Linked DNA regions of Homo sapiens. The protein of the gene in region 1 binds, or shares a complex with, the protein of each later gene. Each region holds a gene or a part of one and is shown in the gene's direction. Other genes may lie near its edges.

Region 1 (7,027 bases):
TGCCTGGCTAAGACCTTGTCTCTACAAAAATTAAAAAAATTAGCCAGGCATGGTGGCATGCACCTGTAGCCCTAGCTACTCAGAGGCTGCGGCAAGAGGATTGCTTGAGTCCAGGAATTTGAGGCTGCAGTGAGCTATGAACGTGCCACTGCACTCCAGCCTAGGCAACAGAGTGAGACTCTGTCTCTAAGGGGGAAAAAAAAAGACAATTGAAAACTGAAGTTTGGAAATATTCAAATAGTAAAATATACATTATTTTTAGCTCATGTACTGTTTTGGAATATCAGTATGGTTATTTCACTTTCCATAGACAATTTGATAATTAAGGTTATATAAATTTATATTACCCATTTTAAGAAATGTTGGTTGATAATGTTAAGTTTAAGTTGGCGTTATATATTTTCAGAGAAAAAAAAAGCTTCCTTCTTTCTTTAGTCTTAGAGAAATGCTTTATTATAGTCTTTACAGAAAGGCAGGAAGCAAGTCTGTCTGCTCCATAGCAAGTTCTACAGGTCACATAAGGGCTCGTTAGTAGTGTGTGTTAGCGCAGCCATTCCAAGAAAGACATCTAAGCTAAGCATCTAAAAGCAGGTTTGGTGTTTCTAAGTGCCTGGTGTCTGAAATGAACTCTTGTTTAAATCTTAGTATGCCCAGCTACTTCTTGACACAGTAGATAAGTTTCAGGGTGAATTCTGTTCAGAATTCCTGAATATTTGTCTGTTCTCTCCAGCTAACTAAGTGACGCTTGGGGAATAGCCATGCAGATAGATGGAAACCCAGTTAACGGGGGCATGCTCCACTGTACCAAGAGGAATTATAATGCTCGTTTGTACTTCTGGCACTTCATGACTTTTCTTTTACCTACCCCATTCCCCGTGTGCTCTATTCCAAGCGCAAAAATCTTCTAGTAGGCTTTCACTAAGGAAATTCCCCAAAAACATTTTCCCAACCATTGAGAGTTGGTCATTTACTTTTTTTTTTTTTTTTAAGCCCACTGACAAGGAACTGAGAGAGACTATAGCATTGCTGACAGCCCAACAGACTGCTCTGGAAATTATTGTCAACATGTGCTGCAATGAAGGTTTGTTAACATTTACATTTAGACATTTTCCCCCTGAGCCAAGAGGGAAACTCCCGTGGAGATTTTCTTAACTATTCCAGTTCTGCGTGGTTTGCCCGCTTCCCAGATCCCTCTGATGACGAATGGGAAGAGCTTTCTAGCAGTGATGAAAGTGACGCATTTATGGAGAATTCCTTCAGTGAGTGCGGGGGACAGCTGTTTTCTCCCCTCTGCCTCTCCCATGAAGTTCACACGGCTCTCACCAACTACCTCATCCCAAAGAAGGTAATCCATTTTCATTCTAGGCTTACCGTGGAGCATGGGAAAGGCTTAAGCAAGGTATTCATTTTGTGTACAAAAGAAGCAAGCTCACACTTCCAGGTTGTAGATGGTGGTAAGATCTGAGACAAAGCTGAGCCTAACAGTACTGGAAATAGGCGAAAAGGTCATTCTATATGAAGCCTAACCATTTCACTTAGGAGTAATATGTTGGAATTATGTAAGGGAATCGTGTTAAATGACTACTCTTTAACCTTTGCTTTACTGCCTCTTTTAAATCTAGATTTTTGAGAAAACTGCCTTTCCAAACAGCATTGCAGTTGACCTATGTTCTAGGAACCCTACTTGGAAACCTTTGATTAGAAAGTAAGAACTCTTCTGCTTTCAAAAACATTTGTCATTATTTTATTTTATGAAATGATGGGCTATTAAATAGAAGGTGCTGACTCCCCCTAGGACCCAGAAGTTTTGTTCCTGGGTATATATACCAGAAAAATATGTGCCCACATGCCCTAGAATACATGTATATGAGAGTGTTCATAGCAGTGTGTGTCACAGTTGCCCCAACCCATAAACAAACGTGTTGTCCATCAGAGTTAGAATGGTAAATAAATTTTGACAAAATCACGCAGTACAATACATGCAGCAGTAAAAGGGATCTGAATTAGAGCTACTCACAACTCGGATGGAACTTACATTGTTGAACCAAAAAAGCGAGACATAAAAGAATACACACACTGTGATTCAGTTTTTACAAAGTTGAGAAACAGGCAACATTGAACTATTTTGTTCAGGGATGCATACCTTGGTGATAAACCTATTAAAAAAAAAAAGAGGCAAGGAAATGTTTACCATAGAAGTCTGTATGGTGCTTACCTGTAGGTGTCAGGGAGGTGGGATATTATATGGAAGAGATACAGGGGCTTTCAGGGTCCAGCAGTGTTAATTTCTTTCCCAGGTGCATGGGTTTTGGTTTCATAGACTGTTTGTTAAACTCTCTATGTATGTTGTGTACTTAACTGTATATATGTCACATTTCACAATTAAAAATAATTTTAGGCTGGGCATGGTGGCTCACACCTATAATCCCAGGACTCTGGGAGGCCAAGGTAGGAGGATCACTTGAGGCCAGGAGTTTGAAACCAGCCTGGGCAGCATAGCAAGACCCCATCTCTACAAAGGAAAAAAAAATACAAAAATTAGCCTGGCATAGTGGCACTCAGCTGTAGTCCTAGCTACTTAGGAGGCTGAAGTGGGAGGATTGCTTGAGCTCAGCAGTCTAAGGCTGTAGTGAGCTATGATGGTGACACTGTACTCCAGCCTGGGAAACAGAATGAGACCCTGTCTGAAGAAAATTATAATTTTAAGGATGCTACCCTACATAGAAATTTTTCTAAAACATATTCCTCATGACTCATGAATGAGTTGTGTATCAGAGGCCGTGAATATTCAAGCAGTTTGATTTGGCAGATTAACAGTTCACCTTATAATTCTAGCACTTTGGAAGGTACAGGCAGGAGGATTGTTTGAGGCCAAGAGTTCCAGAGCAGCCTGGGCAACATAGCAAGACCCCTATCTACAAAAAATAAAAAACTTAGCCAGGTGTGGTTGCATGCACATGTAATCCTGCTCCTTAGGAGGCTGAGGCAGGAGGATCACTTGTGCTCAGGAGGTTGAGGCTACAGCGAGCTGTGATCACACCACTGCACTCCAGCCTGGGCAACAGAGTAAGACCCTGTCTAAAAAATGATGATAAATTTTAGAAAACACAAAAAACAGTTCACCTTGTGATTCTTTGCTAACTGCCATAGATACCTTGTATTTACAGATATTTCCAGTCAGAACGTGAAGCTTAGGCTAAAAGTTAATACTGAATTCTGATGGGCAACTTCTGGAGAATCAGATGGCATTGTTTCACTTCCTTTCCAGAATGAACACTATTCAGTGCAGAGCCCTCTTCTGTCTCCAGAGTCTTGTGTCCCTCCTGGATGTGGAGCACCTGGGAGGAGCCGCAGCCCTTCAGACGCTTGCACAGCATCTGTCACAGCTGCTTTTTTCTCAACCAGGTATTTAGACTTTATTGCGAAAGACTACGCAGACGGAACAGAATTTTGAAGGGGCAGGAATTTGGATTTTGTAAATGTATATTGTTTGTCATCCAATGTGCAGAAACCTTTCCCAGACACAGGAATCATGTATTTATAGTTGCCATGGGGTACAGAGTCAAAACGAGGTATGCAAGCAGCTCCTGGGCTTATAATTTTCTTTTTTGTTAAAATTGTTTGCATCCAGTTATATCAGGCCAGTCAAGGCTGTATCATAAATATCATAAAGGCCTCATTAAGGTATTTGGATAATTCTCAGCCAAGCACGGTGGCTCATGCCTGTAGTCCCAGCACTTTGGGAGGCCGAGGCGGGAGGATCACCTCAGGTCAGGAGTTGGAGACCAGCCTGGCCAACATGATGAAACCGCTCTACTAAAATACAAAACTTTAACTGGGCGTGGTGGTGGAGATGCCTGTAATCCCAGCTACTCGGGAGGCTGAGGCAGGAGAATCGCTTGAACCCAGGAGGTGGGGATTGCAGTGATCTGAGGTTGTGCCATTGCACTCCAGCCTGGGCAACAAGAGCAAAACTCCATCTCAAAATAATAATAATAATAATTGAGTACTATTCTATTATTTTCTTCCCAGTTACAAGCATTTAAGTTTGATTAATATATGTATGTAGTACAGAATTCAAAAGTTATTAGAGGACAGAAACTGGAAAGCCTCCCTCCTTTCTCCGACACCCAGTTCCTCTCCCAGAGTCAAGTTACTGTTGCACCAGTTACTTGTGTATCCTTCCAGAGAGATTCTCCATGTATAAGAGAGCGTGTGTATGCGGGCATGCGTGCGTGTGTGTAAGGCAAATGGTAGAATACCATCCACACAATTCTACACCTTGCCATCATCTAACATGTATCTTTCTTCAAACACCTTTGCATGGTAGGAGCTGATTCTCTTAAGTTACAGGTCTCTGATACGGATTAATTTCATATGCACACAAAGATCTATAGCGATACAAGAGTTAAATTAAATATTCTTTTAAATGACCTAGCTGTAGGTTTCACTTGGAGGGAAAAACAAAAAAAACAAAAACTAGCTGTACAAAGTCCAATGCATGTTCTTCTAACAGATTTTCATAGTTCCTCATAGTAAAATCTTACTTAATTTGACCACATTAAACTATAGGAGCTCAAACCAAACAAAAACAAGAGAGACTGAGAGAGAAGAACAAGTGGTGTTTTCTATACTGAAGGAAAACTCTCCACATTACTCCACCCAGTATCCATTGCTGGAGCGAGGGTAGCCTGGGAGGTGGGAATCTGCCCCTCTCTCTCAGCTGCTGAGGTTCCAGGTGTCTTTCAGGATTTTTTGAGGGTAAACGTGAAGATATTTGCTTTCTACACTGGCAAATAAGATAATTCCATTGTGTTATATTCAGTGTATTCTTCATATATTTTATCCTCCTTTTCAGACACAACATTAAGTCCAAGAATTGAACTCTTAAAAGATCAGGCCAGGCGCGGTGGCTCACACCTGTAATCCCAGCACTTTGGGAGGCCGAGGCGGGTGGATCACCTGAGGTTGGGAGTTCGAGACCAGCCTGGCCAACATAGCGAAACCCTGTCTCTACTAAAAATACAAAAATTAGCCAGGCGTGGTGGCAGGCACCTGTAATCCCAGCTACTCGGGAGGCTGAGGCAGGAGAATCGCTTGAACCCGGGAGGCGGAGGTTGTGGTGAGCCAAGATCGCGCCATTGCACTCCAGCCTGGGCAACAAGAGTGAAACTCCGTTTCAAAAAAAATCAAAAGAGAGTCACTTTTAACTAAATACAAGTTTTTGTGTCAACATCCATTCAAGTGTTGGTCCCCAGTTCTTTAGACATCTGTTTTACATTCCGTCAAGTTCCTAAGAGGTGCTGTGTGTTTAATGGTACATGTTTTTTAAGTTCTAAATTAATCTTTAAAAATTAAGTAATTAAATATTCAGAAACCCATATGTGGTTACTGAGCTGTCTCTGCCACCCTTTCAACATTGATCAGTTAACAGGTGTACCTTTCAAGTACTCCCTGGCTGTGCATTCATTGGCTGGAATGATCCCATGAAAGCTGTGCCCAGCCATGCCCAGGACAGGATATAGTCAGGATATGGGCAGTGCTAGTCCCATTCCCATTCCAGGGCAGGACGGGACAAGCACTGGAGTACAGAGGCAGCTCGTCAGTGTGAGCAGACCAGATGATGGCTGTAGCTTTGTATTTGTCTCCTAGCCTCCTAAACCTGGAAGAGATCTGGATGGTAAACGGGGAGGGGACTTTCCCCAACTTTTGCAAGCATTCTGGCTCCCATCAGCCCAGCAAGATGTCCTGTGGGGTGGGAGTGAGAGGGCTGCTGTTGCTCATGCCCACCCCCACCCATTCCCCTGAGTAGAGGCAGGGGGCAGAGCCAGGCAGGGAGTCCACAGCCAGGGTCCCAGGTGAGCAGGACCCCAAGTCTCTCACTGCTTCCAAGCCCTACCTAAGCTCTAGGTAACCCTGGCAGCCCTGGTTCCACAAGCTGCCATCTCTCAGCTCTGGGCCATTTCTCACTGAGAGTCTGGTCCAGGTACCCCCGGTCCCATCCCCAGGCAGCACACAGAGGTTATTTCACTTGAAACAAACTCCCTGTGTGCCTGTGCTATAGTGAAAGCACTCAGATATGTTTCTCTTGGTTCTGCTGGTTATTTGTGGTCACTGAGGCCAGCACATTTATTAACTGCAAAGATCACAGGAAAACTGCCCCAAGCTGAGTCCTGGAGAAATAATGGAAAGTTTCTGAATTGTGGGAAAATATAACTAAGCACTTTGATTTTAAATAAATTCCCATTTCATGTCTATTCTTGACATCATCTTTTTTTTTTTAAGGTTCAGGAATGTGACATGCTGCTAGGTTAAGAATGCTTTTGTGTATCCTGAGGGTCTTGATGATATTTATGTAGAAATCGCCTACCACACGTTACTGTCACAACAGTAATTTTGAAAATGTATTCACCTAATGACATGTGCTCAGTTACTTCCAGGGATTGGTAGTCTGAATTGGCCTTGCCTATGTAATGGGTTTGGATGGTTACTGCTGGGGGAAGAGGGCCATTACAATACCTCTGGGCTGTCCAGCTTGCTTGGGGCCCATACTCGTATCCCATCTGTGGCCTTCGTATCACCTAATATTGGCATTCGGAGAAATGGAGAATCAAAATGACTTGAAAAGTAGTGTCATTGTTATTTATTTTGGAGTAACAGAATGTTTTCTTATCAGAATGAATTTGATAAAGGATAATCGCTTATATTTGGAGATGATATTCTTTTTTTTTCTTTTATTTGAGATGGAGTCTTACTCTGTTGCCCAGGCTGGAGTACAGTAGCACGATCTTGGCTCACTGCAATTTCTGCCCCCCAAGTTCAAGCAATTCTCCTGTCTCAGCCTCCCAAGTAGCTGGGATTACAGGTGCCTGCCAATGCGCCCAGCTAATTTTTGTATTTTTATAGAGACGGGTTTCACCATGTTGGTCAGGCTGGTCTTGAACTCCTGACCTTGTGATCCACCCGCCTCGACCTCCCAAAGTGCTGGGATTACAGGCATGAGCCACCGTGCCCGTCCTAGAGATGA
Region 2 (7,027 bases), on another chromosome or scaffold:
TCAAACTCCTGACCTCAAGTGATGCGCCTGCCTCAGCCTCCGAAAGTGCTGGGATTATAAGGGTGAGTCACCGTGCCCAGCCTGTTTTGTATTTTTTTGTAGAGACCGTGTCTCCCAGGCTGGTCTCAAACTCCTGGGCTCAAGCGATCTGCCCTTCTTGGCCTCCTAAAGTGCTGGGATTACAAGTGTAAGCCACCACACCTAGCCTATAGCCTTCATTTTTTTTTTATTGAGATGGCATCTCGCTCTCACCCAAGCTAGAGTGCAGTGGTGCAATCTCGGCTCACTACAACCTCTGTCTCTTGGGTTCAAACGATTATCCTACCTTAGCCTCTGGAGTAGCTGGGACTACAGGCGTGTACCACCACGCCCAGCTAATTTTTTCTATTTTTAGTAGAAACAGGGTTTCACCATGTTGGCCAGGCTGGTCTTGAACTCCTGACCTCAAGTGATCAGCCCCGTCTCTGCCTCTGAAAGTGGTGGGATTATAGGCGTGAACCACTGTGCCCAGCCCATAGCCTTCATTTTAAAATACTTTTTATAGGGTATAGTGGGAAAGGCACAGTGGTACAAATAAATTATAATTAAACTTATTTATTCATGAGACAAGGTCTTACTCTGTCACCCAGGCTGGAGTACAGTGGCACGATCATGGCTCACTGCAGCCTCCACCTTCTAGGCTCAAGCGATCCTCCTACCTCACGTTCCGAGTGGCTGGGACCATAGGCACTCACCAGCATGCCCAGCTAATTTTTAAAAGTTTTTTTTGGCCAGTTGCAGTGGCTCATGCCTGTAATCCCACCACTTTGGGAGGCCAAGGCGGGCAGATCACCTGAGGTCGGGAGTTCGAGACCGGCCTGACCAACATGGAGAAACCCCATCTCTACTAAAAATACAAAATTAGCCAGGCGTGGTGGCACATGCCTGTAGTCCCAGCTACTTGAGAGGTGGAGGTTGCGGTGAGCCGAGATAGCGCCATTGCACTCCAGCCTGGGCAGCAAGAGTGAAAGTCCGTCTCAAAAAAAAAAGGTTTTTTGTAGAGATGAGGTCTCACTGTGTTGCCCAGGCTGGTCTTGAACTCACTCCTGGCCTCAAGCTGTCTTCCTGCTTTGGCCTCCCAAAGTGCTGGGATTATAGGCATGAGCCGTCACACCTGGCCTTAAATTTATTTTGATTCAGGGTTGCTGGCCATCAGAAGTCTATTTTGGTTGCTTGGTTGGTTGTGTTGTGTTATGTTTTGTTTTGTTTTGTTTTCCTTTTGCAAGAGTAACTTTTAATTTTATTCTTTGCGTAGACTAATGTTAAAAAAGCCCTTTACATCATTCTTTTGCCATCTTTTATTTGGTAATGTAAATGAATGGAACAAATAATTTTTTTTTTAGTATAGAAGTCTAGAAGCTTAAAAATGTCATCTTAGCCAGGCCTGCACCTGTAGTCCCAGCTACTTGCAGGATGCCTTGAGCCCAAGAGTTTGAGTCCAGCCTAGGCAACACAGCGAGACCCTGTCTCTTTAAAAAGAAAAAAAAACCCACCTCTGTTTTTGCCTCTAATATCAGTATTCACAGACATCATTTTGGAACAGTTAATAAAATGTGAAAATAAATTAGTGTAAAGTATTGACTACTTTAAAATCAGTATAGGCCAGGCACAGTGGCTCTCACCTGTAATCCCAGCACTTTGGGAGGCTGAGGCAGGCGGATCATTTGAGGTCAGGAGTTTGAGACCAGCCTAACCAGCATGATGAAACCCAGTCTGTAAGAAAAATACAAAAAAACTAGCCAGGCATGGTGGTGTGCACCTGTAGTCCCAGCTACTTAGGAGGTTGAGGCAGGAGAATTGCTTGAACCCGGGAGGTGGAGGTTGCAGTGAGCTGAGATTGTGCCACTGCACTCCAGCCTGGATGACAGAGTGAGACTCCATCTCAAAAAAAATAAATAAAAATAAAAAACAAAATCAATATATAAACAGTTTAGACTTTGGTAATTATATAATTGCTTTTTTTTTTTTTTTTTAGAACAGTAAATGTCCTGAGGGAACAAAACCCATGCTGATATTTGCTGGCGATGATTTCGATGTAACAGAAGATTATAGAAGACTAAAAAGTCTTCTTATTGGTAAGTATTTTAGTATTTATTATCTTCAGGGTAGCTCAGGAAGACAGTCTCAGACTCTCACTGGTGGCACTTTGCTACTTTAGGTTTGTAACTTCTTTTTTCTCTTATTTTAAAAATAATATTTATATACTTAAAATAATGGAGTGCTTCACAAATTTGCATGCCATCCTTGCGCAGGGACCATGCTAATCTTCTCTGTATGGTTCCAGTTTTAGTATATGCGCTGCCGAAGCGAGCACAACTTCTTTTTCCTCCTTTTTTTGGACCTTTCTCTTTTTTTTTTCCCTTACCAGCAGCAGGAAAGCACCTAAGTATCTCGGGAGAGTTAAAGCAGCTGTTGTACTGTGTAGATGATTATTTCTGGATGTGTTAGTAACTTAGGTATTACTTGTATAGTGTTTTATAAAATTCCTGCACCCATCTCCTGTCATTCCTAGCATCATTTAAAATTAAATTTAGAAAGTTGAGGGATTAAAATTTCAAGATTGTTTGTATCACCGACTTCCAACTCAAAAACCTTAATTAGTTTTTCTGAGTTGAATATACAAGGCCTTTCACAATATATAACCAATGTAGCTTGGCCTTCTTGATCTCCTATTGCCTTCTTTTTTTCCATTAGAAAGGGTTTATTGCCAATATATTATTCACATTTCTATTGTGTATTCTGATATTGCTCTTATTTATCCAGTTTCTACTATTCATTTAAGTGTCAGATCATCAAGTTTCTTTTCCGGGAAGCCCTCAGTGACCTTCCTGGCTCCTTTTTTTTTTTTTTTTTTAAAGATAGAGTCTTGCTCTGTTGCCCAGGCTGGAGCACAATGGTGTGATCTCGGCCCACTGCAACCTCCACCTCCCGGGTTCAAGCGATTCTCCTGCCTAAGCCTCCCGAGTAGCTGGGATTACAGGTGCCCGTCACCATGCTGACTAATTTCTTTTGAGACGGAGTCTCGCTCTGTCGCCCAAGCTAGAGTGCAGTGGCGCGATCTCGGCTCACTGCAAGCTCCACCTCCCGGGTTCACACCGTTCTCCTTCCTCAGCCTCCCGAGTAGCTGGGACTACAGGCACCTGCCACCATGCCCAGCTTATTTTTGTATTTTTAGTAGAGATGGAGTTTCACTGTGTTAGCCAGGATGGTCTCAATCTCCTGACCTCGTGATCCACCCGCCTCGCCCTCCCAAAGTGCTGGGATTGCAGGTGTGAGCCACTGCGCCAGGCCTAATTTTTTTTTTATTTTTAGTAGAGACAGGGTTTTGCTATGTTGGCCAGGCTGGTCTTGAACTCCTGACTTCAGGCGATCCACCCTCCTTGGCCTCCCAAAATGCTGGGATTACAGGCATGAGCCACTGCGACAGGCCCTGGCTCATTTTTACTTTATTACCATCATCATCCTAAGTGCCAGGCATATAGTAGGCACTTCATATACACTGCTTCATTCTAACAAGAACCTTGTGAGGTTGTTCTACAGATAACCCACACCTAGCAAACTATGCTAGTTCTAAATGATTTGTGTAATGAATATAAGGACTACATCCTTTTCTATTTTTTTCTCCTTTATGAGGCAAGTCGTGTTCTGATGCCCAGGCTGGAGTGCAGTAGCTCAATCATGGCTCATTGCAGCCTCAACCTCCCAGGCTCAAGTGATCCTCCCACCTCAGCCTCCTAAGTAGCTGGGACCATAGGCACATGCCACTATGCCTGGCTAATTTTTAAAATTTTTTGTAAGATGGGGTCTCACTGTGTTGCCCAGGCTGGTCTTGAACTTCAGGGCTTAAGCAATCCTCCCACTTCAGCCCTCAGAGTGCTGGGATTACAGGTGTGAGCCCCCACACCCAGCCTCCATGATTTTTAAAAGGTTATTAGTACTTAGCATTCTGCAATTATATTTGCCAGCTCTTTTATAACTCTGGAAAGTAATTTAATTTTCCAAGAGATTGGTACTAATTTAAAGGGTCTTGGGTCTGTCTCTCTGTCCCTCAATTTTTTTTTTTTTCTTTTTTTTTTTTCTTTTTAGACAGCATCTTGCTCTGTCACCCAGGCTGGAGTGTACTGGTGTGATCACGTCTTACTGCAGCCTTGACCTCTTGGGCTCAAGCAGTCCTCTACCTCCTGAGCAGCTGGGACTACAGGTTCACACCACCATGCCCAGCTAATTTTTATTTTAATTTTTTGTAGAGATATGGGTCTCCCTGTATTGCCCAGGCTGGTCTCAAACTCCTGAGCTCAAGCAATCCACCTGCCTCAGCTTTCCAAAGTGGTGAGATTACAGGCATGAGCCACCACACCTAGCTCTCTCCAATTTAAGAAAATCTTCTTACTGAATTTTTTGCTTCTTTTCCCTCATGGGGATTGAGAGATTCAGCTTTTCCTGCACAGTACACTGATACTCTCAAAGCAGCAGTCCTTTATGGTCCTATTTCACCTTAGTGTTGACAGCCGCGAGGCCTCCATCTGATGCTCAGTGGCCTTGTCTACTTTATTCCATTTGAGCTTTTCTTGCACCATGCTTACAAGCTTATGCTACACTTCTTGTTACCCTTGTTTTAAATTTTTATATACTTTGCTGTAGATCACTTTTGAAAAATTGATGGGGTATAAAATTACGTTGTATGCACATGCTTTACAAATCTGAGCCCACCAAAAAAACTGTGACAAATACATTGCTTTCATTTTCCCTTTTTGGGATTATTTATGGTCTTTATTGTCAGGATTATAATTTTTAGGGGAAAAAAAAACACGTCACCCATTCTTGGGATTATAATTTTTAGAATTTATTTCCCGTATTAGTAATAGCTACTTTTTAAAAAAGAAACTAAGAACCACTATTATCTGTTTAATCTTTACAAAAGTTCTTGAGTTTGATGACATTCCCATTTCACAGATGGGAAAACAAACAGGGGCTCTGAGAAGTTAAATGAGAGCTATTAAGTAGGTAAGGCCAAGTTGAAACCCAACGCTTCCAAAGCCTGAGCTTTTCTTCCCCTACTGTCCATCTTGCCTGTGGTAAACATATTCCCATGATCCCTTCTAGAATCTTTATAGGTTCTTATCCATATTTTCCATGAATTAAATTCATACATGAAAGACAATGACTAATATTTCCTTCTCTCAATATTATATATCCCAAATTATCAAGGGTATTTTTCTTTCTTTCTTTCTTTCTTTCTTTCTTTCTTTTTTTTTTTGAGACATAGTCTCACTCTGTTGCCCTGGCATGATCTCAGCTCACTGCAACCTCCACCTCCCAGGGTCAAGCAATTCTCTTCCTTAGCCTCCTTAGTACCTGGGACCACAGGTGCATGCCACCACACCCGGCTAATTTTTTATATTTTTAGTAAAGACTGGGTTTCACCATGTTAGCCAGGCTGGTCTTGAACTCCTGACCTCAAGTGATCTGCCTGCCCTGGCCTCCCAAAAGTGCTGAGATTATAGGTGTGATCCACCGTGCCTGGTCAAGGGTATTTTTCCAGCCAAAATGTCAGCCAGATTTTCAGCTAAGATTTCCATTACTTGTACTCCATTGACCTAGATTTTCTGCCTTTTTCTCTTTCCCCTAGGTCTCCCATATAATTGTTTATTGTCAGTGAGGCAGATACTTACAATTTGTTATAACAGAGAGAGCTTTTGTTTGCATTTGTTTAAATGTTTTTTGTATTTTAATAAGCCCCACCTTCTCATTATTTTGTGCTTCCACTAGATGGCAGGAATGATCACATAATGCAGTGGTGAGGGGAAGGGAGTGAAAACCAAAAAGGAATCTGGACAGAAGCAGAAAGGTAGAAGAGGAACAGATTCAGACTGTAGGGCACCAAGGGAAGTTGAGTTTTCAGTATAAATATGAAGTAAAACAACTGCTCTTTGGTTTATGTTGTGTGTTCAAATGAAATATCAGTAGGGAGCAAGAAATGTATGAAGGGCTTTCATTTAGGAAGTTCCTTTTTTTTTTTTTTCTTAATTGACCAGAAAGAAAAGTTAACTTTTTTTCATGCAAGATACCCATTTTGTTCATTCTTAATTTGTTTACATCATTTTTTTTTTTTTTTCTTTTTTTGAGACAGGGTCTCACTCTGTTGCCCAGGCTGGAGTGCAGTGGCATGATCATGGCTCACTGCTGTAGCCTTAACTTTCTGGTCTCAAGCAATCCTCCTACCTCATTCCCCTCAGTAGCTGGGACCACAGGTACACGTCACCACGCCCAGCTAATTTTTTTTATTTCTTGTAGACATGAGGTCTTGCTGCATTGCTTGGGCTGGTCTCAGAGTCCTAGGCTCAAGCAGCCCTCCAGCCTCAGCCTCCCAAAGTTGGAGGTGTGAGCCAACATGCGTGGCCTATTCTTCCCTTCTTAAATGGTAGCATATTATATATATGGTTGTTTAAAAAAATTTGGAGTAGAGGAATTTTTAATTCTGATTTTCATTATACAATTGAGAAAACTGAGGCCTGGACAGGTGAGTAGCTTTTCTAAGGTCATGCATTTACCAAGTGGCATATTAAAGTTTTGAACTTAGGTCTCTCCAAAGTACATGCTTTTATTTCTTATTTGTTTATTTTTTGAAATGGAGTCTCACTCTGTCACCCAGGCTGGAGTGCAATGGAGCAATCTTGGCTCACTGCAACCTCCGCATCAGCTGTTCAAGCGATTCTTCTGCCCCAGCCTCCTGAGTAGCTGGGATTACAGGCATTCACCACCATGCCTGGATAATTTTTGTATTTTTTGTAGAGACAGAGTTTCGCCATGTTCGCTAAGCTGGTCTCAAGCTCCTGGCCTCAGGTGATCCACTCATCTTGGCCTCCCAAAGTGCTGGGATTACAGGCATGAGCCACCGTGCCCAGCCATGCTTTTATTTATACAGTATTATTATACTTTAGGTTATCAAGTTCATAAAGTTATTTATCATACTTCTTGGTCAAAATCC

What was found. Proteins that work in one complex are often made in the same cells at the same time.
Region 2: HEATR3 (region 1) and RPF2 share a complex: the UniProt entries of both Homo sapiens proteins name them as parts of the hexameric 5S RNP precursor complex.

What each region holds. Positions count from the first base shown.
Region 1 is NC_000016.10:50,082,947-50,089,973, forward strand, and holds part of HEATR3 (HEAT repeat-containing protein 3), read left to right. Parts: intron 1-990; coding exon 991-1,081; intron 1,082-1,161; exon of another isoform or gene 1,162-1,187; coding exon 1,188-1,345; intron 1,346-1,622; coding exon 1,623-1,705; intron 1,706-3,268; coding exon 3,269-3,405; intron 3,406-7,027. UniProt on the Homo sapiens protein: Plays a role in ribosome biogenesis and in nuclear import of the 60S ribosomal protein L5/large ribosomal subunit protein uL18 (RPL5). Required for proper erythrocyte maturation.
Region 2 is NC_000006.12:111,006,024-111,013,050, forward strand, and holds part of RPF2 (ribosome production factor 2 homolog), read left to right. Parts: intron 1-2,014; coding exon 2,015-2,114; intron 2,115-4,197; exon of another isoform or gene 4,198-4,240; intron 4,241-5,808; exon of another isoform or gene 5,809-7,027. UniProt on the Homo sapiens protein: Involved in ribosomal large subunit assembly. May regulate the localization of the 5S RNP/5S ribonucleoprotein particle to the nucleolus.